Regions from separate parts of the Homo sapiens genome. Here all the other regions are linked to region 3. Evidence: fine-mapped expression QTL. A gene starts in region 3. Each other region holds a variant in brackets. All regions are shown on one strand. Distances are between the middles of the regions. Region 1 holds the start of HLX (H2.0 like homeobox). Region 2 overlaps HLX-AS1 (HLX antisense RNA 1). Region 3 holds the start of LINC01352 (long intergenic non-protein coding RNA 1352).

Evidence for each region.
Region 1: its variant is fine-mapped to the expression of LINC01352 in fibroblasts (GTEx, PIP 0.95).
Region 2: its variant is fine-mapped to the expression of LINC01352 in transverse colon (GTEx, PIP 0.99).

What each region holds. Positions count from the first base shown.
Region 1 is chr1:220,873,837-220,882,020 of GRCh38, forward strand. It overlaps HLX (H2.0 like homeobox), which reads left to right and starts at 5,607. Exons shown (of 4, transcript NM_021958.4): 1 at 5,607-6,613; 2 at 7,358-7,537. The coding sequence starts at 6,022. HLX-AS1 (HLX antisense RNA 1) reads right to left here and starts at 6,304. Exons shown (of 3, transcript NR_046901.1): 1 at 6,013-6,304. RefSeq lists a silencer at 5,164-5,213 and an enhancer at 6,332-6,940. The variant C/T (reference allele first, on the strand shown) is at 4,614.
Region 2 is chr1:220,844,920-220,853,103 of GRCh38, forward strand. All of the region lies in intron 1 of HLX-AS1 (HLX antisense RNA 1), which reads right to left. Among named protein-coding and RNA genes, the nearest start is that of LINC01352, 20 kb to the left of the region's middle. The variant T/C (reference allele first, on the strand shown) is at 4,515.
Region 3 is chr1:220,826,118-220,834,301 of GRCh38, forward strand. LINC01352 (long intergenic non-protein coding RNA 1352) reads left to right here and starts at 3,138. Exons shown (of 4, transcript NR_110797.1): 1 at 3,138-3,325; 2 at 4,576-4,790; 3 at 5,025-5,266; 4 at 5,996-6,312. It overlaps HLX-AS1 (HLX antisense RNA 1), which reads right to left. Exons shown (of 3, transcript NR_046901.1): 2 at 6,901-7,075; 3 at 6,646-6,741.

The sequences.
Region 1 (8,184 bases), 48 kb after region 3:
AGTTAGACATACTTCTTTTCTACAGCTCCTTGTTTGAAATCAATACACATTCTGATTAAGGGCAGAGAGTTTTTCCTCTGAATAAACCATTTCCCCTGAAGAAATTGGCTGGATGGTATAATACCGGTTGATGAACCAGAAAACCTAGCCTCTGTTCCCTCCAACACCATTTCCCAACTACGTCACCTTGGGCAAGCCACTTAACCTTTCTGAGGATCAACTTCCTAAAGTCAAATGGGATAATAATCCCTCGTCGGCATCCTACAGTTGGTTATTTTAAAAAAGTGAGATAATAAATGTGAATTGACCTTGAGATCTGTAAAATGTACACAGTATTATTCCTGAACCATGACTGCTTCCCTTGCCCGGTCTAGTGATTTTAAGCACACAATACAAGATCTTCCCATATTGTTGCAATATGGAAGGAAACAGCTGCTAGTCAAAGCCAGTTTTAGAAACCTGCATTTTTGCAAAAGGAAGAGTCAACTTTCATCATAACAATGTTGCTGGCACAGGATGGTTACTGCCATAAAACAATGTAGAGATGGTCCAGCAGGTGTCAGCAGAGAACCAACTTTCAGTACTAGGTGGGCTCCTCCAGGGAGGGAGATGCCCGGGCCTGGTGGGCTGGGACAGGGCTGGGGGGACTCCGTCATTAAATCCAGGGCTGTCCCAGTTCTGGCGGGTGCTGGTAGGCAGATTGGGACCACTGAGATGGGGACAACAACCCATTGGCTTTATCTGCAAAATCCCTCTCATTGGCTCCAGGATCCTCTCCCTTCAGAAGATCCCTTCCCATGACTGTTTTTTAGTCTGGGCCTGAGTCCCTCTTCTGGCCCTAGAACCTGTGCTCTAACTTGAAAACCTGTCTCACAGGGAAGAAGGTTTATTTGTTTGTTTAGAGAAATACTGCTTTGGGAATGCCTTTCATCCCTGTCTGTTTTGGATATATGTTTTTCACCTACTCCTCCTTCTCCTACCTTAACAACCAGCCATTCAGATTCAATAATTCAGGCAACAAATCCAAGGTGAGTGGCTAATGTATGGGAAGTGGGAGAGCACTGTTTACAGCTACTAAATAGAAGCCCGTGCAATGAAGTATGTAAGCTCATATATGCTACAGATAGTCTCTCATATTTTACTCTTATGATTTCATTGCAAATGTATATGAGTCTGTTATAATGTGCCATGTTGAAATGGGTTCTGCCATAGGTTTTATGAGATTTGGGGTCTTTCTTGGCTGGATGTAGAGAGGATGACTTGGAGAGGCAGAGAAGCAGCTCTTTGAAACAGGAGCAAATCCCAAACTGCCTGCCTCCCCTCCCCTCCACATTTCTAAGATTCCCAGAGAGAGAGAGAGAGAGAGAGAGAGTGTGTGTGTGTGTGTGTGTGTGTGTGTGAGAGAGAGAGAGAGGTACATATATGTAAAGTGGTATATCTTAGTAGTGAGGAAGGGAAATATGTGAGAAGCCCTATGAGAGGAAAGGGCAAATGGAATCAGAGCCAAAAGGCTGTCTGAAACTTTGGAGCAAGACCTATGGATAAAGTTCAAGGGCAGGGCCACAGCCAAATAGAGAGCTGGCCACCTGCAAATCTGCCACATCTGGGAAATGGAGAAAAGGAAAAAGAATAAATCAAATAGCTATGGATGTTTGTAGCCCTATTGCATTATTTGCTTTTCCCACCCCATAGCAAAGTCCAATTCTTCTCAAAAACTCAGAAATTCTGGAATAACTCTAAGGTCTCCAAGGAAAGAGAGTTGTGTCCTACTTAGAATAGGCCAAAGTATGCGTGTGTGGGTAGGGGGTGTGTCTATGGGGGATCATTAGAGTCCTAATCTCTAGTATCTGGCACCCACAAAGAACAGAACTCCCATATCCACCACTAAGTATGACTGCTGGGACCAGTGATCCATAAGTCTCCAGCTGGCAGAAAGACAGGCACAATATACACAGATTCCTACGTTGCTGCAAATTTCTTGAATTCTCAAGTAGCTGGATAAGCTGTGTTTCTTTTTCTTTCTGATTGTAAATATTTAATTATTTACATCTCTTTTCTTGAAGCCAGTAGGTACCATGTTTGCAAGAATATTTGAAATTAAGAGGAGAGGGGTTCCGAAGTCCACAGAGCAACTGCCTTGCACATTATTTTACCCAGAATGCACAAGAAAAAGCAACACAGATAGCAGATATAGCCAGTTCAAGTCCTTGAAGAGTTATGGTCCTGTAATATACAAGGCCCAGCATTCACTATAATTGACCTGTGCTCAGTGTGGATCTGTGACTCTGGTTTTGGGACAAAAGTCTGCACTGATGATTTAAATATGGAGGCTCCAAAGACAGGTAGAACCAAAGGATGGTGAAACCCATCTCTTGCCTCAGTCATTGCATAAGCCCCTGATTCAGGACCCTTTTAAACCCTAAATCCCCATAAGCTATATTGTTAAATTATAAAACGAACCTTCTCTGATCTTATCCATTCCCAATATGGTGAAATCGTCTTTGGCTGTGTTTAACTAGGAAAAGTGAAGGGATGAGTTGAAAGCATTAAAAACAGCAGTCAGCATGATCAGAAACCCCAGCCAATGCGATATTTTCCAAAGAAAAGAGGCCACAGTTAGGGTCTCCGCTGCGTAGACCAAGCTCAAGTTAATTCGGTTTAGCCAGGCCCTTTTCTTTCCTGTTAAATTCTCAACCCCCATGGCTACCAGCCCCTGGGGAGCCCTCGCCTCTACCCCCAGGACCTCCCTGCCCGGCTCAGTAGCTCTGGGCCAGTTCATTTCGCCACAGCCCGGAGCCTCTCGGAAAGCAAAGATTAAAGGGGAAAGTCGCAGCTGTATATTTATATTTTCATTGCTAGAAGGGAATTGATTTCCGTGCATTTATTTTGGTAGTTGTAATACATAAGGGCGGATTTGCGTCACCCGAGCAACTTGCCGGTGGAGATAAAGTTGCACAAATATTGAAAGGGGAAGTGCTAGGAGTCATTATAGAGTTTTTCTCCGGAAGAAATAAGGATTTCTGCAGTATCCTAAAATACTAAGGCCGCTTCTATTTTGAGACCAATCTCGCAGGCACATCCGCTCATTTAGTCCCGAGTTTGAGCCCATCAAAAAACAGGAGATGACCTGAACTCCGGCGAGCCCAGGGTTTCCTGCTGCTTTCTTGGTTCTGAAGAGTGGGGAGTAAGGAGGGCGGGAGTCTGCGGGCTCAGAACTCGGCGAGGGGCCTGCAGGGGCCAGGCTTGGGCCTGGGGAAGGGGTAGAGGGGGCGGCGGGGGTCGCTCCAAAGACTTGTATTTCGCGTTTGCCTCCGGGAGCTGGGAGTAAGGCCTTGGATGGCGCCGACGCGGTTGCGAGGAAGCTGAGGCCTGGGAGAGCAAGGGGCGCGCAGGCGAAGTTGCAACTTGCACTCCAGCCGCGGGCCTGGCGGAGAAAGGGAGGCTCGCGGCGCCGCGAGGAGTCGGCGGGCCTCGGGGCCTCGCTTTCGCCGCATCTGCCCAGCGCTCCGGGCCTTGAATCTCGGCAGATGCGAGTTGTGGGCACCTAGGGAACCCTGAGGACTCGCATTCCCCCGGGTCTGTATCCCGTGCCCACCCCGGAGCGTCGCAAACCTTGGAAAGGGTGAAAGCTGATAGGGGAGTCTTATTTCTTAAGAGAGAGGGTGAGGGCGCGCGGCGCTGCCTCGGGTAAGGAGTAAATGCACCTCTTTCACAACCGTGAGTTTGGGCTTAGGCTGAGGTCTAAATGTTTGCAGTCAAATTAGAAACGCAATCAAACTGGAAGTGGCACTAGAAAGCAGAGGGCTCACGGCCTCCGCTACGCACACTCCCACCGAAGGCTCACCAGAACCCTCAGCCAGCGCCTCAATTGCCCATGTTGTACTTGTCGCTCCTTTGCCTTCACCTTGACACAGAAAAACTGGTCTTAATACGTCTCTCGCCCCAGGTACCCCTACCTTCAGCCAAACACACCCATCTATCTCTGGAAATAGCACCTCTCTCCTGGTTGCGTGGAGCAGGGGAAGAAAACCTTTCAGTAAAAGAGAGATGGAGAGCGAGAGCGGGAGAGCTGGAGGGCGGGAGGAGGGAGAGAGAGAGGGAGAGGGAGAGATCTTAGTGCTGGCTGATCAGAAGTGATTGATAATTTTCCAGGAGAAAGTCAAAAGCTTAAAAGGATAGCATCTGCATCAAGGGGCTAGAGAAAACACCAGAAATTAATTTTATAAGCCCAAACCCTGAACTCGAGATAGGCATGGCAAGTTCACTTGCTTTTCTGGGTTTATTTGGTGAGGAGCCTTCGTGCTGAAGGGAAATAAAAATGTCACAGAATCCCTGTTAGGAGATGCTTATTAGGGCAATCGAAAACAAAAGTTTTCGTGGTTTCATTATTCGTATTATTTTATTTTCTTCCTGAAAATGTGCAAGAACAGCTCATCTGGGTGGCCTGTGGTTTGTTTGGGAGAGGGGTGGGGAAATTCATTCTGACTATAATTTAAAGAGAAGAAATTCTTAAAATAGATATGTCGATGTTGCACAAAACCTCCACCACCACTACCCTGCGTTCTAAAGACCCAAGGCACGAATGGAAGACGTTGACCACCACGCAGCTCCTC[C/T]TGCAACCAGGCCCAAGGGGTTCCTGGGGAAGCTGTCACAGAATTGAAAGCAGTATTGAACCCCACGGAAATCTGCTCTTGTGGGCACTTGCAAAACAACGAACCCCACGTGATCCGGAGATGTGGTGGAGGGGTGAGGCTAACATTTCCTACAACCTCCTGCAAAGGATGGAAGCGCGTGCCGCTCTCCCGGGTTTCGGGAGGCAGCCTGTTTTGTAGCCTCTGAGGCTCCGGGGAAAGGTTTGGCTGCGTCTAAGAGAGACGTTTGGAGCCATCCGTCTTATTTTGTTTGAAAAGTCACTCGTTCAATTTGTCACTGTGTGACAGCTCAGAATAAAACCAATTTGCGGCCGCCCCTCCTCCTCGCTTCCCGGAGGATCTCCTGGGAGGCACGAGGCGGACGCGGTGCTGAGTTGGGCCGGGACTCAGGGCGGCAACATTTGGGCAAGGGCCCAGGAAAGATGAGGGGCTTTGCCGAGGACACGGACTCCTGGAATAAAAGCAGAATGAGGTCAAGAGAAGGGAAGCAAAGGGGCCAAAGCGCGCTCCGCTCTCCACCGGGAGGCGGGCTTTGCAGAGCCCTAAAGAGTGAGATTACCGTCCCTTCCCCACGCCCCCAACTCGCCCCGGGTGACAAGCGCTTCAGGAAAGCTCCTGTGATCAACCCTCCTTGCCCCGTGGCGGTTCGGAGCTGCAGAAGTTAGAAGAGAGTCAGAGCCCTCCGGAGCGGCTGCCTGGCCCCTACGCAGAGTAGCAAGAAGCACTGCGATGTGCGCTACTAAGCCCACGCGGCCGCAGCAAAAACTTTGGCGTGGCCGGGGCGTGGCTAGGGTCCGGCCAGGCCCCCTTGTTCCTAATTCCCCTCCACTCCCCGCTCCCATTGGTCACGAGGATGACCAATGAGCGCTCGGATCGAGGTCCTACCCCGGGCCTGACTCGAAAGCTCCTGCCAAAACTTTGGGAGTTTTTAGAGACGAGTTTTTTTTTTTTTCTATTACTTTTCCCCCCCCCTAACTAACGGACTATTATTGTTGTTGTTTTAAATTTAGCTCTTAGGGCTTAGCTATTTGGGTTTTCTTGCGGTGTCCGGCTCCCGTCTCCCTGGCTCCCCCGCCCGCCCTGCGGCCCCAGCGCCCCTCGCTCTCATCCAGCCCGCGAGGAGTGCGGGCGCCGCGCCGCCTTTAAAGCGAGGCCAGGGAGCGAGGCGGTGACCGGCCGAGATCCGGCCCTCGCCTCCTCCCTCGGTGGCGCTAGGGCTCCCGGCCTCTCTTCCTCAGTGCGGGCGGAGAAGCGAAAGCGGATCGTCCTCGGCTGCCGCCGCCTTCTCCGGGACTCGCGCGCCCCTCCCCGCGCGCCCACCCACCCAGTCCGGCTGGACTGCGGCAGCCGCGCGGCTCACCCCGGCAGGATGTTCGCAGCCGGGCTGGCTCCCTTCTACGCCTCCAACTTCAGCCTCTGGTCGGCCGCTTACTGCTCCTCGGCCGGCCCAGGCGGCTGCTCCTTCCCCTTGGACCCCGCCGCCGTCAAAAAGCCCTCCTTCTGCATCGCAGACATTCTGCACGCCGGCGTGGGGGATCTGGGGGCGGCCCCGGAGGGCCTGGCAGGGGCCTCGGCCGCCGCCCTCACCGCGCACTTGGGCTCGGTTCACCCGCACGCCTCTTTCCAAGCGGCGGCCAGATCCCCGCTTCGACCCACCCCAGTGGTGGCGCCCTCCGAAGTCCCGGCTGGCTTCCCGCAGCGGCTGTCTCCGCTCTCAGCCGCCTACCACCACCATCACCCGCAACAACAACAGCAGCAGCAACAGCCGCAGCAGCAACAGCCTCCGCCTCCGCCCCGGGCTGGCGCCCTGCAGCCCCCGGCCTCGGGGACGCGAGTGGTTCCGAACCCCCACCACAGTGGCTCTGCCCCGGCCCCCTCCAGCAAAGACCTCAAATTTGGAATTGACCGCATTTTATCTGCAGAATTTGACCCAAAAGTCAAAGAAGGCAACACGCTGAGAGGTAGGTCTTGGGCGGGAGGCTGCAGGCCTCTGACCACTGACCCACTCCCCGGACCCCGGGCTGGCTTGGGGTGCCTTTGAGTGTTTTTACAATTAAGGACAAATCGGTAAAACGGGAGAGAAGAAAACGAATTGTAAGAAAACTACAAAACATTAGGTCTAAAACTCACCTGTTCTATGTAAAACAAACAAAAAATGACTCCAGGGATTCTTTAAAAACACGTCTTAGAATCAATATTTATAAAAGTGGTTGGTGTAATTATCTGCTAACATGACTTTGATCTCTTTAATAATGTATCTAGAGACAGAATTATATTTTCTGACAGCTAAAGCATTTTTGGGAAACACTTTCGCACTTATCTGATTTCTAGTAAAAATTTCACCCAGGAAATGTAAATAATAAACAAAACCGCCTAGATGAGCGGGCAGAGTGGGGCCACCTTGGGGCGGAGGTTTTGCGTCTGTGGCGTTCTTGGAAGACACGTGAAAGTGAGGCCGTAAGCCGATTTATGTAAAGCCTTTACTTACTATATACATGCATATGGACGTGAGGGACACACAGGAACTTTTCGTGCGTCGCTCCTTGGCAACTGTTGGGAGAGAGAGGTTTCAGCGCCTAGACGGGTTCTCTCTTGACTTCGCTCAATAAAAGTGAATCCAGGGCAAGGGGAAGGGGAGGAACAAATCAGCGGAGAGTGTGAGTGTGCCCGAGATGTAACCTGCTATCCTTTTCCCTTGTCCCCAGATCTCACTTCCCTGCTAACCGGTGGGCGGCCCGCCGGGGTGCACCTCTCAGGCCTGCAGCCCTCGGCCGGCCAGTTCTTCGCATCTCTAGATCCCATTAACGAGGCTTCTGCAATCCTGAGTCCCTTAAACTCGAACCCAAGAAATTCAGTTCAGCATCAGTTCCAAGACACGTTTCCAGGTACGGAAAAACTCCAGAGTACTGCCTAACGGGCGAGCCGACTAACAGTCAGAAATCTCAGGACTGACGCCTCCAGGGCTGCCACGGTGTCGCAATCTCACAATTGGGGCGGGAGGCTACGGAGTCAGGAGAGAGAAACCGAAAGATTTCTCAGCGAGCTAGCGCTCGCTTCGGATGGTTCCCCTTGAAAAGGGGTAGAGGCGCCTGGAGATCCCAGAAAGTGTGTGCGTGGACGGTGGGGTGGGGGGCTTTCTCGAAGTCTTTTCGCCCCAGAGGGCTTGAAAAATGCAGCATCAATGTTGCTTATTAGCATATACACATTTTGGGATGACCTCAAACACTTGTGCTTGGCGAGTTTATGTCTGGGTGCCTGGACACATGCGGGAATAAACACACACACACACACACACACACACACACACACACACACACACACACACGAGATAATTCAATTCAGGGCTGTCATCATTCAGGCCCAAGGGACATTTTTGTCTACTCTTCGTAGGCCTGATGGCCACGCATGAGGTTTATGTTTTTCTCTTGGAATTAAAGGACAAGCCGCCAGGCTTCTCCACTCCACGCTCGCTTTAGGTCTTCCGACTGTCGTGTAAAATTCCTCCTTAGAGGGGCCATTCGGTGTATGTGCG
Region 2 (8,184 bases), 19 kb after region 3:
TATTCACACCACTGGAATAATATTCACAGTCTGAATCAAGATGGTGGCTCAAGCACATGCCTGCTTTCCCTGCCCAAACCCCAATCCAGATATATATTCAACATACAGATAACACTGTGTCTTGGGAGGGAAATTCTGTGTCTGGGGGATACCAGAGTGAAGAGCCTACTTCTTTAGATATGCTTTTGTACATTTTCAAGGTTGAACTCTGTGAATATAACACTATTCAAAAATTTAAAATTAAGTTTAAATAAGCTAATTTTAGAGTATCAATATAAAATAAAATGGAATTTAAGGCCAAATGCATAAAAGGAAAAATGAGACATATTTATATTGATTAAAAGTATACTTCATGGCTGGATGTGCTGGCTCACGCCTGTAGTTCCAGCACTTTGGGAGGCTGAGGCAGGAGGATCACGAGGTCAGGAGTTCAAGACTAGCCTGGCCAACATGGTGAAACCCTGTCTCTACTAAAAAAACAAAAATTAGCCAGGCATGGTGGGCACCTGTAATCCCAGCTACTCAGGAGGCCATGGCAGGAGAATCACTTGAACTTGGGAGGCGGAGGTTGCAGTGAGCTGAGATGGCACCACTGAACTACAGCCTGGGCAACACGAGTGAAACTCCATCTCAAAAAAAAAAAAAAAGGACAGTTAACTAAGAAGTCACTTAACTTCATGAATCTAACAACTTCGAAATATACAAAACTGATAGAAATATAAGGAGAACCTAATGATGCATAAAAAATAAGACTACACAAAAAGAAGGTATTATATAGTAATAGCATTTGAATAACATACACATATCTCATAGATATATGTAAAAGTTGGTATTCAAAAAGACAACACATTTTAAAAAACATACAGAAATTTACAAAATCAGTTCATATGTTGAGCCACAGAGAAAATATCAACAAATTCCAAAGTAAACAGGGTCATGCAAGTTGCATTCTCCTAGTGCAAAGCAATAAAAATGGAAATTAATGAAAGTGCTAGCCACATAAACACACACATATAAATCTGTCCACTTGGAAGTATAAAATATCCCTCTATGTTCTTGGGTATAAAAGCAAAGCAAAACTATTTAGAAATAAATTATGAGAACTCTTATCAAAATAAATGGGACATAATCAAAGCAATACTCAGAAGAAATTTTGCAGTTTTAAAATGCATTTTTCTTAGAAAATAAAAGATTGAAAAATAATGAAAGCATTCAACTTAAGAATAATAGCAAAAACAAAATTAATAAAGTTAAAAAAGAAAAAATAGAAAATATTATGTGCACATATATTAAACCATTTTAAAAGGAAAATATTGTGTGTCCTTGGGATTTCTTTTGTAGAATACATTAAACTGGATAGATGTTGTCAAATATTTATTTAAATAAAGTATTGGCCAGGTGTGGTGGCTCATGCCTGTAATCCCAGCACTTTGGGAGGCCAAGGTGGGCAGATCACGAGGTCAGAAGATCGAGACCAGCCTGGCCAACATGGTGAAACACCACTTCCACTAAAAATACAAAAATTAGCTGTATGTGGTGGTGCATGCCTGTAATCCCAGCTACTCAGGAGGCTGAGGCAGGAGAATCGCTGGAACCTGGGAGATGGAGGCTTCAGTGAGCTGAGATTATACCACTGCATTCCAGCCCGGGCAACAGAATGAGACTCCATCTCCAAAAATAAAAATAAATAAGTATCAGTAAAGATGATTTCTGGTGTGTTTTGCATAAAATATTGCTAGGATTAAATTACAACACAAGTAAAGGATTTGATGCAGTGCTTGTACCAGAATAATTACTATTTAGCTGCTATTATTACCATTAAATATCTTTTTGTGACAGGAAAATCACAGAAGAAGTTCATTTTAGTGTTAAAAAATTTTTTTTTAAATTTACTGGACTAAAACCTGCTTTCATATTGTCTTTCTCTCATTCGCTCCGTTAATGGTTACCTTACTCCTTGTCTCTACTCCCCCAATCTTAAAACCTGAATCACGGTACTCTTTTTCATACAGGACACATTTTCAAATATACGGTGAAGAAGGATGGGCCATTACACATGTGCATAGTTTTCACTTCTCTTATCAGGTGAAACATTCCCAACTGTTTATTTTTCCTTACTTAAATGAAAAGGAATCTAGGTCTTCCACCTTCTTTTAAAAAATATTTTATTTTTTATGGATACATAATGGATATACATATGGATGTACATGTGGTAATGTAATACCTTAATATAATTTGTAAAGACCAAATCATTGTAATTAGGGTATCCATCACCTCAAATATTTGTCTTTTCTTTATGCTAATAACATTCAGATTATTCTCTTCTAGCTATTTGAAATATATAATGGGGTACTGTAAACTGTAGTCGTACTACTCACCTATCAAACACTAGGTCTTATTTCCTATGTCAAACTGCATATTTATACTCATTAATCAACCTCTCTTCATCTGCTCCTACTCACTACCTTTCCCAGCATCTGCTAATCACCAATTTACTCTCTATCTTCATGAAATTCACTGTTTTTGCTCCCACATATGAATGAGAACATGTGATATTTGTCTTTCTGTGCTTGACTTACTTCACTTCACTTCACATAATGACCTTCCATCCATGTTGCTGCAAATGACAGAATTTCATCTTTTTATGGCTGAATAGCATTCCACTGTTTATATATACCACATTTTTTTATCCATTCATTCACTGATGGGCACTTATGTTGATTCCATATTTTGGTTATTGTGAATAATGCTGCAATAGACATAAGAGTGCAAACATCTCTTCAATATACTGATTTCATTTCTTTTAGATATATACCCAGTAGTGGAATTGCTGTATCATATGGTAGTTCTATTTTTAGTTTTTTGAGGAAACTCAATACAATTGTTATACTGGCTGTACTAATTTACATTCCCAAACACAGTGTACGAAATTCCCATTTCTCCATATCCTTGCTAGCATTCATTATTCCTCGTATTTTTGATAAAAGCCATTTTAACTGGGGTGAGATGATATCATATTGTGGTTTTGGTTTGCATTTCTCTGATAATTAGTGATGTTAAGCATTTTTTCATATACCTGTTAGCCATTTGTATGTTTTCTTTTGAGATATTTGTGTTTAGGTCTTTTACCCATTTAAAAATTGGATTATTTGTTTTTTTGCTACTGTGTTGTTTGAGGTCTTTATATATTCTGGCTATTCAATCCCTTGTCAGATGGATAGTTTGCAAATATTTTCTCCCATTCTATGGGTTATGTCTTCACTTTGTTGATTATTTCCTTTGCTGTGCAGAAGCCTTTTAGCTTGATAATCCTATTTGTTGATTTTTGTTTTAGTTGCCTGTGCTTTTGAGGTCTTACACAAGTAATCTTTGCCCAGGCCAATGCCATTGGGCATTTCCCCAATATTTTCTTTGAGTAGTTTTATAGTTTCAAGTCTTAGATTTAAATCTTTAATGCATTTTGTTTGAGTTTTGTATATGAGGAGAGATAGGGCTCTAGTTTTTTTCTTCTACATATGGTTATTCAGTTTTCCCAGAACCATATATTGAAGAAATTGTCCTTGCCTCATTGCATGTTCTGGGCAACTTTGTTGAAAATGAGTTGGCCATAAATGCATGAATTTATATCTAGGTTCTTTATTGTGTTCCATTGGTCTACATATCTGTTTTTATGCCAATACCATGATGATTTACTTACTATAGCTTTGTAGCATATTTTGAAATCAGGTAGTGTGATGCTTCCAGCTTTCTTTTTTTCACTCAGGATTGCTTTGGGTATTGGGGGTCTTCTGTGGGTCCATATAAATTTTAGGATTCTTTTTTCTATTTTTGTGAAAAACGTCATTGGTATTTTGATAGGGATTGCATTGAATCGGTAAATTGCTTTGAGTAGAATAGTCATTTTAACAATACTAATTCTTCCAACCCATAAACTGGAATGTCTTTCCATTTTTGCATTTCCTTTTCCATTTATTTCTTCAGTATTTTATAGTTTTTCTTGTAGAGATCTTTACTTCTTTGATTAGATTGAGTCTTAAGTATTTTATATTCTTTGTAGCTATTGTAAATGGAATTACTTTCTTGACTTCTGGGGTATATAAGTGCTACTGATTTTTGTATGTTGATTTTGTATCCTGCAACTTTACTGAATTTGTTTATTAGTTCTAATCCTTTTTTGGTGGAGTCTTTAGGATTTTCTAAGTATAAGATCATGTCAACTGTGAACAAGGCTAATGTGACTTCTTTCTCTCAATTTAAATATGATTTATATTTCTTTTTTGCCTGATCGCTCTGGCCAGGATTTCCAGTACTACGTTGAATAAAAGTGGTGAAAGTTGGCATCCTTGACTTGAAGTTGGCATCCTTGACTTGTTGCAGATCTTAGAGGAACGGCTTTCAATTTTTCCCTGTTCAGTATGATCAGTTAGCTGTGGATTTGTCAATGTGACCTTAATTACTTTGAAATATGTTCCTTCTATACCCAGTTTGTGGGTTTTTTCCTCATGAAAGTATGC[T/C]GAATTTTATTACTTTTTCAGCATCTATTGAAATGACTATATGGTTTTAGTCCTTGGTTCTGTTAATGTGATGTATCATATTTATTGATTTGCATGTGTGGAACCGTTCTTCTATCACTGGGATGACTCCCACTTGATCACAGTGAATGTTCTTTTTGATGAGTTGCTGAATTCAGTTTGGTGGTTTTTGTTAAGAATTTTTGCATCTATTTTTATCAGTAATATTAGTCTACAGTTTTCTTTCTTTTTGTGTCCTTGTCTGATTTTAGTATCATTTTAGTATCAGGGTAATGCTGGCCTCACATAATGAGTTTAGAAGGATTCCCTCCTCTTCAACTTTTTTTGGAAGAATTTGAATAGAATGTTTGGTATTAGTTTTTCTTTAAATGTTTGGTTGAGTTTGGTAGTAAAGCCATCAGGTCATGGCTTTTTTAAAAAACATTTTTTTTAATAGAGGCAAATCCTTGCTCTTTTGCCCAGGCTGGAGTGCAGTGTTGTGATTATAGCTCACTGCAGCCTCGAATTCCTTGGCTGAAGTGATCCGCCTGTCTCAGCTTCCCAAGTAGCTAGGACTACAGGCATGCACCACCAAACCCAGCTACTTTTTTTTTTTATTTTTATGTTTTGTAGAGACGGGTTCTTGCTGTGTTGTGCATGCTGGTCTTGAACTCTTGGCCTTAAATGATCCTCCTGCCTTGGCCTCCCAAAGTGCTGGGATGACATGCATAAGCCACCACGCCTAGCCTGGGCTTTTCTTTGTTGGGAGACTTTTTTATTAAGCCCTCTATCTCATCACTTGTTATTAGTTTGCTGAGGTTTTCTCTTTCTTCATGGTTCGATCTTAGTAGGTTTTATGTGTCCAGGAATTTATCCAGTTCTTCTAGGTTTTCCAATTCATTGCTCTGTGGTTGTTCATAATAATCTCTAATGGTCTTTGTATTTCTGTGTTCTCAGCTATCATGTCTCCTTTTTCATTTATAATTTTATTTATTTGAGTCTTTTGTTTTTCCTTAGTCTGGCTAAAGATTTGTCATTTTTATCTTTTCAAAAAATAGACTTTTAATTTTGTTTATCTTCTGTATTTTTTTAGTCTCAATTTCATTTATTTTTACTCTGATCTTTAGTATTTTTTCCCTTCTATTAATCTTGAGTTTGGTTTGCTCTTGCATTTCTAGTTCTTTGAGGTGCATTGTTAGGTTATTTATTTGAAGTCTTTCTGCTTTTTTGACATAGGCTTTCATTGCTATAAAATTCCTTCTTACTATTGCTTTTGCTGCATCCCATATTTTGATATGTTATATTTCCATTTTCATTGTTTCAAGAAATTTAAAAATTTTGTAATTGACCCTTTGGTTCTTCAAGAGCACGTTGTTTAATTTTAATGTGTTTGTGCATTTACTGAGGTTCCTTTTATTATTAATTTCTAGTTTTATTTCATTGAGATAAGAAAAAATACTTGATATGATTTCTACTTTTTTGAATTTGTTGAGACTTGTTTTGTAGCCTAAGATATGTTTTTGTAGCCCAAGATACAGTCTGTTCTTCAGAATCTCCCCTGTGCTGATGAAAAGAATGTGAATCCTGCAGTCATTGGGTTAAATGATCTGTTATTGTCAGGCTTATTTGTCTAGTTTGTAGTTTAACTCTGATTTTCTTTGTTGATTTTCTGTTAATGATATCTCCATTACTGAGAGTGGGTTGTTGAAGTTGTATACTATTATTGTGTTGAAATCTATCTCTCCCTTTAGATCTATTAATGTTTGCTTTATATACTTGGGAGCTCCTATGTTGGGTGCATGCATATATTCTCTTGGTGAACTGTCTCCTTTATCATACATAGATTTTCAGTTTATATTCTCTTGCTGAATTGTCTCTTTTACCATATATGGTGACCTTCTTTGTCTCGTGGACTTGTAGTCTGTTTTGCATGATGTAAGTATACCTATTCCTGTTCTGTTTTGGTGTCCAGTAGCATGCAATATTTTTTTTCACTCTTTCACTTTCAGTCTATGCATGTCATTATAGGTGAAGTGGGTTTCCTGCAGGTAGCACAAATTTGGGTCATGTTTCTTTATCCATTTAGCCACTTTATGGCTTTTAATTGGAGAATTTGAGTCTATTTAAGTCAGTATTTTTATTGGGCAGTAAGGACTTACTAGTGCCATTTTGTTGCTTATTTTCTGGTTGTTTTGTGGCTTTTCTCTTTCTTATTGTCTTCATTATTGGTTATTTTCTCTGGTAGTATGTTTTAATTTGTTGCTTTTTTCAAAAAGTGGATCTATTATAGGTTTTCACATGTGGTTATCATGAGGCTTACAAAAATCATCTTATAGACATAACAAGTTATTTTAAAGAGATGATAACTTAGATTACAAAGAAAAGAATAGAAACAAACAAATCAAGAAAAAATGAAAAAACTCTCTAATATGTTAACTGCAAATGTGGGGACGTCTATATTTTGACTTTATGTTGTCTTCATTTACATATTCTTATGTTGCCTATCTCTTAACAGGTTGCTGTAGATATTATTATTTTTGATATATTTGTCTTTTAGGCTTCATACGAGAGCTATGAGTGGATTGCACACCAAATTACAGTAGTAGGGTATTCTGGGTTTGTCTGTGTCCTTAATTTTACCAGTGGATTTTATACCTTCAAATGTTTCCTTTTTGGACTTCAGTGTTTTTTGTTCTTTCAGCTTGTTTGAAGAGGTCCCTTTACCATTTCTTTCTTTTTTCTTTGAGACAGAGTTTCGCTCTTGTTGCCCAACCTGGAGTGCAGTGGTGTGATCTCGGCTCACTGCAACCTCTGCCTCCTGGGTTCAAGTGATTCTCCTGCCTCAGCCTCCTGAGTAGCTGGGACTACAGGTGTGCACCACCACACCCCGCTAATTTTTGTCTTTTTAGTAGAGACGGGTTTTCACCATGTTGGCCAGGATGGTCTCGATCTCCTGACCTTGTGATCTGCCCACCTTGGCCTCCCAAAGTGCTGGGATTACAGGCATAAGCCACCGTGCCCAGCCTCCCTTTAACATTTATTGTAAGATGAATTTATTGATTATGAATTATTTCCATTTTGTTTGTGTGGGAAAGACTTTTATTTCTCCTTCATATGTGAAAGTTATGTTTGCTAGATACAATATTCTTGGATGACAGTATTTTTCTTTGAGCACTCTGAACATATCTTACGTCCTCCTGGCCTATATGGTTTCCATTGAGAAGTCTATTGCCTGAGGAATTGAAGACTCTTTATATGCTATTTGTTTCTTTTCTCTTGTGGTTTTTAGGATTTTCTCCTTGACCTTGACAGTTTGATTATTATGTGGCTTTGAGTAGTCTTGCTCAAGTAGAATCTCTTTGGTGTTCTCTGATCTTCTGGTACCTGGATATTTATCTCTTAAGTTTTGAAAAATTTTCTATTATTATTTCTTTGAATAAGCTTTCTACCTCTTCTTGCTCAGCTCCCTCTTGAACACAAATAATTTTTAGATTTGGCCTTTTGAGATAATTTTCTATAACTTATAGATGATTTTCCTTCCTTTCATTTGTTTTTCTTCTCCTGTTTTTTCAAATAGCCTGTCTTTGAGGTTACTGATTCTTTCCTCTGCTTTATCCATTTTCCGTTGAGAGCCTCTAATAAAATTTTCAGTCCAGAAAATTTATTTCTCAGT
Region 3 (8,184 bases):
AATAGTGTCTCTAGAATGGGGAAGAAATTGAAAGATACAATGATGGGATGAAGACTGCAGGAAGGGGTTGGAATTCTTTTCTCTCTCCTTTTGGTAAAAGTATGAGCATATATTTAAGTTTCCTGCCTTCTTTGCAGTCTGTCCCTGGGGGCCCCGACCTCTTGCAGCTCCTGACTCTTGACAATGCCTTCTTGTTGATCTCATCTCACTTTCCTCCACACTTGGCCGGCTGCCCACCGCTGTGTTTCTCTCTGAGATAATCCTGTCCCTATGATTCCTCTGGTTTACGTGGTGTTAAGGTGTTAGGGATCTTGACAGTTAAAAGTAACACAGAACACCCAGATCAGGCTCCACAAGCCTCCCCAGCCTCAGGCATTGCTGATGAAGAAAAAGTAAAGTCTTCTGTGCATCTCTGGAATCAGCTTCTAAAGAGTGACCCCTGGGAGGCAAGCCTGATGTGTGGTGCTCAAAGTCGGGACAGTGGTTACACTGGGTGGGAAGGAGGTGGGCGGTGATGGGGCCAGGTGCAGACAAGAGATTCTGGCCATGGGAAATACTCTGTTATTGATCTGGTGCTGATGACCCAAGTCTGTCCACTTTGTGAAAATGTATTGAGCTTGCGACTTGTGTACTTGTCTGAATGTGCATTACACATTAGTAGGAAGTTAAAAAACAGAACACATCACCCTGTAAGGCACATATGTTTCTGAGTGAAAAGCTAGCAGCCTGTGGTGAGCGAATGTGGTAGGGTGGGGACATGTTCTATGAGAATGGCCATCAAGGGTCCCCTTCCTGTGGGGACCTGGATTGACGATGCCTGTCAGAGTCCTGGAGGGGTGGGTTCTGCAGGTCCGTCCCACAATCCAGTCCCCAGATTAGAGATTTGTAAGTGGGTGACCCGCCTTGGAAAATTCCCCTCAGCACCTCTTATGTCTCTTGGCTCTCCATGTGGGGCACCCATACACATACAGAGCAGAACAGACCTGATTTTACATTTATCTTTTACTTTTTTTTAGAGACAGGGTCCTGCTCTGTCACCCACGCTGCTGCAGTGCAGTGGTGTGATCACAGCTCACTGTAGCCTCGATCTCCTGGGCTCAAGCAATCCTCCCGCCTCAGCCTCCCAAGTAGCACATGCCTGGCTAATTTTTAAAAATTTTTTTGTAGAGATGGAGTCTCCCTGTGTTGGCCAGGCTGGTCTCAAACTTGTGGCCTCAAACGATTCTCCCATCTCAGCCTCCCAAAGTGCTGGGATTACAGGCATGAGCCACTGTGCCCTGCCTTTTTAAAAAAATGTAAATTCTCAGTCCACAGTGTTGAGGATGTGAGAGTGAAGGGCTGCTCATCAAGAGGCTTGCTTAGTTGTTGAGTGTAGGTAAGACACTTAAAGAGAGTCACATTCTTGGGAGAAACTAAGATTCTTCCCTTGCTGTAAGAGGACACCATAAGAAGCCAAGGGTTGGCTCTGAACAGAGGGTCAAGCCAACCAGGCCCTGCTGTTATCACCTACGGAAATCCTGTGTGGCAGTAAATACAGTCCTCAGCAAAGCCTGGAGAAGAGATTACAGGGGGCACAGAGGGGCTGGGGATGCTAATGTGGAGGTTATTGGCCAGATAGTGGCCAGGAAACCAGAGACTAGGGGGGGTTCAGTTGGAGGAGCATAGGCGGAAATGGGAGAGAAAAATAAATAAATGAGATAAGCAACTTCATTTGCTTCCTCCCTTATTACTCTTTTGTTTTGTGTTTAGGACTCTGGTCTCCCCTGAGGTTGATCTCTTCTTCTGGGGACAACAGCCTGCAGGGTGATTTTGAAAAGCAGGCTCTGACTTCTACTTCCTTGTCCTGTACTCACCCCACCTGGTGTAATTCACCGTAATGCAGTGAACTTCCACATGGCTGCTGGGCATGCTTCCCAAAGCCAGCCCCTGGGCAGGGTTTCCCTTAATTTAGACCCCTGTCCCTACCTCTCCAAGTGCAAAGTGTACAAGGCTACACGCCCAGCTGCCCCCCACCCCCATACACACACTGGAGAGACCAAATGTTTGAGATCACTGTTGGGTAGCTGGGTCAAGAGAGCTTCATAACAATGTTGTTGGCATGTGGAGAGCTTTTCTTTTTCTTGGATCCCAACTGGAAATTATCAGCTTCGCCCCATGCTGACATGCGAATGTCCAGGCCTGCCTTTCTGCTGCAGGGCAATGCTCCAGGTTACAACATCGACACCAAGCAGTTTGTTGAGAAAACTTTGGACCTCATGAGCTGGGCAAGAGCGGCCTGGCAGGTGGTAGGAGAGCAGCCTGTCCATGCCTCAGCTGTGGCTCCACTGGCTCTGTGACTGTGCAGATTTTCTAACTTTTGAAGACCTCTGTTTGGATATCCATAAAATAGGTAAGATGGTGCTAATACCTACCTGTGATGTTGTGAAGATTTAATAGCATAATACTTAAAAGCACTTTGCATACATTAGCAAAGTGCCTAAATATTAGTTATTTGGCGGAGGCTATTAACCAGTGTGCTATGAGGTGCAAAGTAAGTTGTTACCAATAACTCAAAGAACTCCAGTTTGCAAATGTTTTACTTTTACTTAAGAGAATCTTTGCGGGAGAATTAAAACCAATTAATTCCCACCACTGGCCAAGAGCTCATGCTGTAATTATCCAAGACAGAATAGCTCAACAGAAAACCAAGTCATGCAATTCTGAGCACTTGTCCTTGGGATGCCACTTTGGGGCTCCCATATCTGAAATCATTTTGTTCTCAGTCCACCTGTGTGACATTTCTGTCCTGCTCAGCCACGGGTTCACAATAATCAAGGGAATGACCCAAGGGATTCACTTCTTCCAAGCAGCCGATGCCTTTGGAAGTTATGTTGACATTGCTTGTTTAAACCTAGGGCAAGAAATCCTTTCTCTGCCAGACCTGACTCTTCAGGCACACTCCTCAGTTTGGAGACGTGACTTGCCATGTAGTACTGAGAGGGAAAACAGGCCAGAAACAGCCTTGTTGAAAACTTCTTTTCTGCTTAGCTGCCCTCTGAACAGTCACCATAAAGATTGTGAGGTGCTGGAGCCAGGGATGACCTCATAAAGCCCTTTGCTAAATACTTAGTGAGCTGGTACTGTGGGCCAGGCACTGTGCTCATCATGAACAAAACCAAGGCAGACAACACTGTCATTAATGGAGCTTATCATGTAATACGGAAGCCTGGGATAAGCAACAAATTACACAAGTGACAAATGTGATGAGTGCTGTGAAGCAGAGTGCGGGGTGCCCAGGGAATCAGCAGAGCCCTGGAGGATAACAGCCTGAGCTCCAGGAAGGAAGGTTGTGGTGGTGCTTAGGGTCAGAGTGGGGACAAGCATTCCAAGCAAAGGGAAAAGCACATACACATGCTATATTAGTCAGGTTTCTCTAGAGGGACAGAACTAACAGGATAGATGTATAAATGAGGGGGAGCTTATTAAGTAGTATTGACTTGCATGAGCACAAGGTGAAGTCCCACAATAGGCTGTCTGCAAGCCGAAGAGCAGGGAAGCCAGTCCGAGTCCCCAAACCTCAAAAGTAGGGAAGCTGACAGTGCAGCCTTCTGAAGGCCCCAGAGCCCCCGGCAAACTGCTGGTGTAAATCCAAGAGTCCAAAAGCTGAAGAACTTGGAGTCTGTTGTTCGAGGGCAGGAAGTATCCAGCACGAGAGAATGATGAAGGCTGGAAGACTCAGCAAGTCTACTCCTTCCATGTTCCTCTGTGTGCTTTTATTCTGGCTGTGCTGGCAGCTGATTAGATGGTGCCCGCCCAGATTGAGGGTGGGTCTGCCTCTCCCAGTCCACTGACTCAAAAGTTAATATCTTTGGCAACACCCTCACAGACACATCCAGGAACAATAGTTTGCATCCTTCAATCTAATCAAGTTGACACCTAATATTAACCATCATACATCCCCTCCATGGGAAGGAGCATGATGCCTTATATAGTCTACTACCCTCAAACCAATCCTACTCCCTCATCCCCAACACCTTCTTCCCCTGGAACTCTAGATAGAGTTTCTTGACTAGACACATAAGCACAATTAGGCTATGCCTAATTATGAAGCCATCCCGGTTTATACATTTTCTTGTTATACTTGCCTATTTACAAGTTTTTCTTGTGAAAACTTGCCTATTCTTTTTGCTGCCTCCTCTCCACCCTAAAAGAGAAACTCTAAGGAAACACTCCCAGAGTTTATTATAGTTATTATGACTCAGATTTGAAGACTAGAATTTAATGGAGGTTTTCCTAACATTCCTTGGGGACTTGAAGGACTTTTTTTCCCACCAGCCACAGAAGTAAGATTATAAAACATTTATTTATTAAAAGAAAAGAAATCTTCTGGGCTCAAAGTTCTAGTTATTCTAAAAGCAGAGCACTTGTTCCATGTTTTCATATCGCCTCCCCACACCTACCTCTCCTCTCCCATTCTCTATTTCTTTATTTCTGTGCTGTAGTAATAAGCAAAACAGAGAAGCAATTGGTTTTAGTCTTGGATCTTGACCTTGCTGTGTGGCCTTGGCCAAGTCACTTCCCCTTTCTCAGCCTCAGTTTCTTCAAGTGTAAAATGAGAGATTGGATGGATCAGAAGATTCAGGCCTCCTTGAAAATCCCCATGGGTGAACCCCAACACACAGGCTATTCAGCCAGCAGCCCCAAGTCCTTTATGAAAAGCCAAGGTTGATTGAAACTCTCCCTTCTCAGGAGAGAAACTAGAGGCAAAGCTTCCTCATCAGCAGAGATAAACTTGGCAGGAGCCAATTCAGGTACCAGTAAAGGATATCTTCTTCTGCAGGCCAGCCTCCCTCTCTCCAGCTTGGTTCAATCCTGCATTCATTGACACTGCACTTCTATAAGCCCTTAGAACTCTGGGAATTCTCTCCTAGTTTTCCTAGGTATGCTTGCTGTTTCTACATGGGTTTCCTGTGAATGACCAGACCAATAATCAAATGCCTCCAGGACCCATAACACAAATGAGAAGAGTTCTCTCATTATGACAGGTAGGACCATGGCCAACTCAGGGCTCGTGCTTGATCGAAGGGGATCTGTGTTAGTCAGCATTCTCCAGAGAAATGGAACCCATTGGATAGATATGTAAAGAGATTTATTATGGGAGTTGGCTCATGCAATTGTGGAGTCCTAGAAGACCCACCACCTCCTGTCTGCAAGCTGGAGAAACAGCAAAGCCAGTGACGTAATTAAGTCTGAATCCAAAGGCATAAGATCAAGGAGAACTGATGGTGTAAGTCCCAAAGTCCAAAGGCTTGAGAACCAGGAGCTCTGATATCTAAGGGAAGATGTCCCAGCTCCGGAAGACAGAATTCACCCTTCCTCTGCCTTTTGTTTTATTTGAGCCCTCAATGGGCTGGATGATGCCTATTCACATTGGTGAGGGTGGATCTTCTTTACTCAGTCTACTGATTAACACCTGTTCCAGAAACGCCCTCACAGGCACACCCAGAGATATTGTTTTCCCAGCTATCTGGGCACCCCTTAGCCCAGTCAAATCAACACATAAAATTAATCATCATAGGCTCTAAGTTCTACTTAGCTCCAACCAGTTGGAGTCATTTTGGAATAAGTGTAAAGTGTTTTCAGATATTCTGATCTTACAAGTGAAGCTGGAAATTAGCATTTTTAAGTAAAGATGACTCAATTAAGAAAAAACAAAAACAAAAACCATGGCACGAGCAGAAGACGGTGCATCAGATTCAGGCCTGTGGTTGCTGGTTGGTTACCTGTGGGTGTAAGCAAAGTACTGGGTCCTTTCCCATTCTAGACTATATTTACAAAATCAGTAATGCTTAGCTATGCATTCTTTCATTTAACAATTATTTGTCAACTACCATGAGCTGGTATTATGTAGAATGCTGGTAAAATAGATAACTAAGACCCAACACATGTGTAAATGAGAATGAGTGTGATATAATCAATGTCTCCTGGGCTAGGTGTCTCTTTTTTGCTTCCACAGCACCTGTGTATACTTCCATTATGGCATGTAACATGCTGGCAAGAAATTGATTCATTGGGTTGTGTCTTCTCAGCTGCCTGAAGAATGAAATCATATACTCTAGTTTCATATGCCCAGCATTGTACACAACTTGACACATCACAGCAGCTCTAGGAAAGCACATAGGCTGACAACTGAGTGAACAACCCACTGACTGTGTGTCGTTCAGGGTTGGGAAAGCAAGGGCAGGTCTCTGTGCCCCATCTCTAGCTTTTCCTCAACTTAGGCTTTATAAACCCTTGCATCAAAAAATAAAAGCTAAGGCTAATTGTTTCAAATTAGGCTATCTTATTTCTACCCAGTAACTTCCCCACCACCAAGAAAGGAGTAATTTAAAGGAGCAAACTGTAGAAATAAATAGGAATAAAAGCATTACCTCTGAAAGCCAAGGCCATTAATTCATTAAAAAAAAAAAAAAAATCAAAGCCCGGGCGTGGTGGCTCATGCCTGTAATCCCAGCACTTTGGGAGGCTGAGGTGGGTGTATCACCTGAGGTTAAGAGTTTAGACCAGCCTGGCCAATGTGGTGAAACCCCATCTCTACTAAAAATACAAAAAAGTTAGCCAGGCGTGGTGGCAGGTGCCTGTAATCCCAGCTACTCGGGAGGCTGAGGCAGGAGAATCGCTTGAACCTGGGAGGCAGAGGTTGCAGTATGTCGAGATCACACTATTTACATTCCAGCCTGGGCAACGAGAGCAAAACTCCATCTAAAAAAAAAAAATCAAGATGAATAACATACTCTTATGTAACAGGTGAAAGTCTTAAAGGACTTAAAGGAAAGTCTTAAAGTAAAGTCTTAAAGGACTTCACTTCATGTGTGAATTCTCAGTGTAATGGAAAATCCATTGGTTTAGGAATCAGATCACCTGGCTTTTAGTCCACTTCTGCAACTGTGAGATCTCAAGTAACCTACTGACTCCATCTGGGCCTCAGTTTCCTTCACTGTAAAGTGAGAGGTAATTGGAGGATCTCCAGAGTTACTTCTGGGTCTCATAGACTGTGCTTCCTGGCAACCAGTTGCCTCTTCTGAGACCACCTGGCCTGGTAGGAAGAAAAACACAAAGAAATATATGAGTAAACATAATCATGCCTCCTTCTGCAACAGTAGCCATAACTCTGCTCTCCACAGGACAAAGGAATGAGTAATAGTGCAGTTGAAATCTCATCTACTTCCCTCTTCTTCAAGAACCAAGGGGCTGCTCCAAACATCTTGAAATGCAACATAAAACACAAACAGACCACACCAGAGACCAGATCCAGGTTTTAACAGCACTTTGATGCTTGGCAGATTTCTCTGGATTTGTTTTTTAGGCTGACACACAGCGCCTCTCCGTTCACCCTGCAGCATTCTCTAACTGGGACTTCAGAAACCCATTAGGAAAAGGAGTGCAGGGTGTGGAGTAAGGGAAGGTTTGGATGAAAGGCTAGGAAATGCTCCCTCAGGGGAAGGGAAATCTGGCACCATCAATAACTTTAAGTCTATAAAATTATTTTCTTCTGGGACTAAAAGCTCACATGATACACTATATTTATCACTCACTGAATCTCATTGTCTTATTCAAAATTTCCACTTCCTACAGTTAACTTCTTTTGGCCCATGACCTGTCACATTTCTTTTATGGCTAGTATATTGAATTTCAACTATCAGCAGTCATTTATTAAAAACAAAACACATCCACAGAAAACCAGGCAGACACAGCTTGATTAATAACAAGTCGGTGCTTTCCTCTCATACTTCTTTCAGGTTAGAGAAGTTGGAAAACTGCTAATGAGTCTTCTGTACCTTTTAAAGAAATGTCTTAGAGTAATCTTACAATTAGGAGTTTCCTATGTCAGGTAGAAATTAAATGCTTTGAAAGCTTCCAGTTTCAAAAAAGGTGGTGAGCTAGCACAGGATATTGGCTTCCTCCCAAAGCCCAATCTTGAAGTGAGAGGAAGTTGCCAGATCCTGAAAATGAAGAGAAAAGCTGTAGAGATTTTCATGGTGAGGGTGGGAGACATGGTAAGGGTGAGACTGGGGGAGGGCAAAATGTCACAGACACTTTGGGTGTGATGAGTAATTTTATGTCAGCTTGACTGGACCAAGGATGCCCTGACATTTGATCAAACATTATCCTGGGTTTGTCTGTGAGGTTGTTTCTGGATAAGGT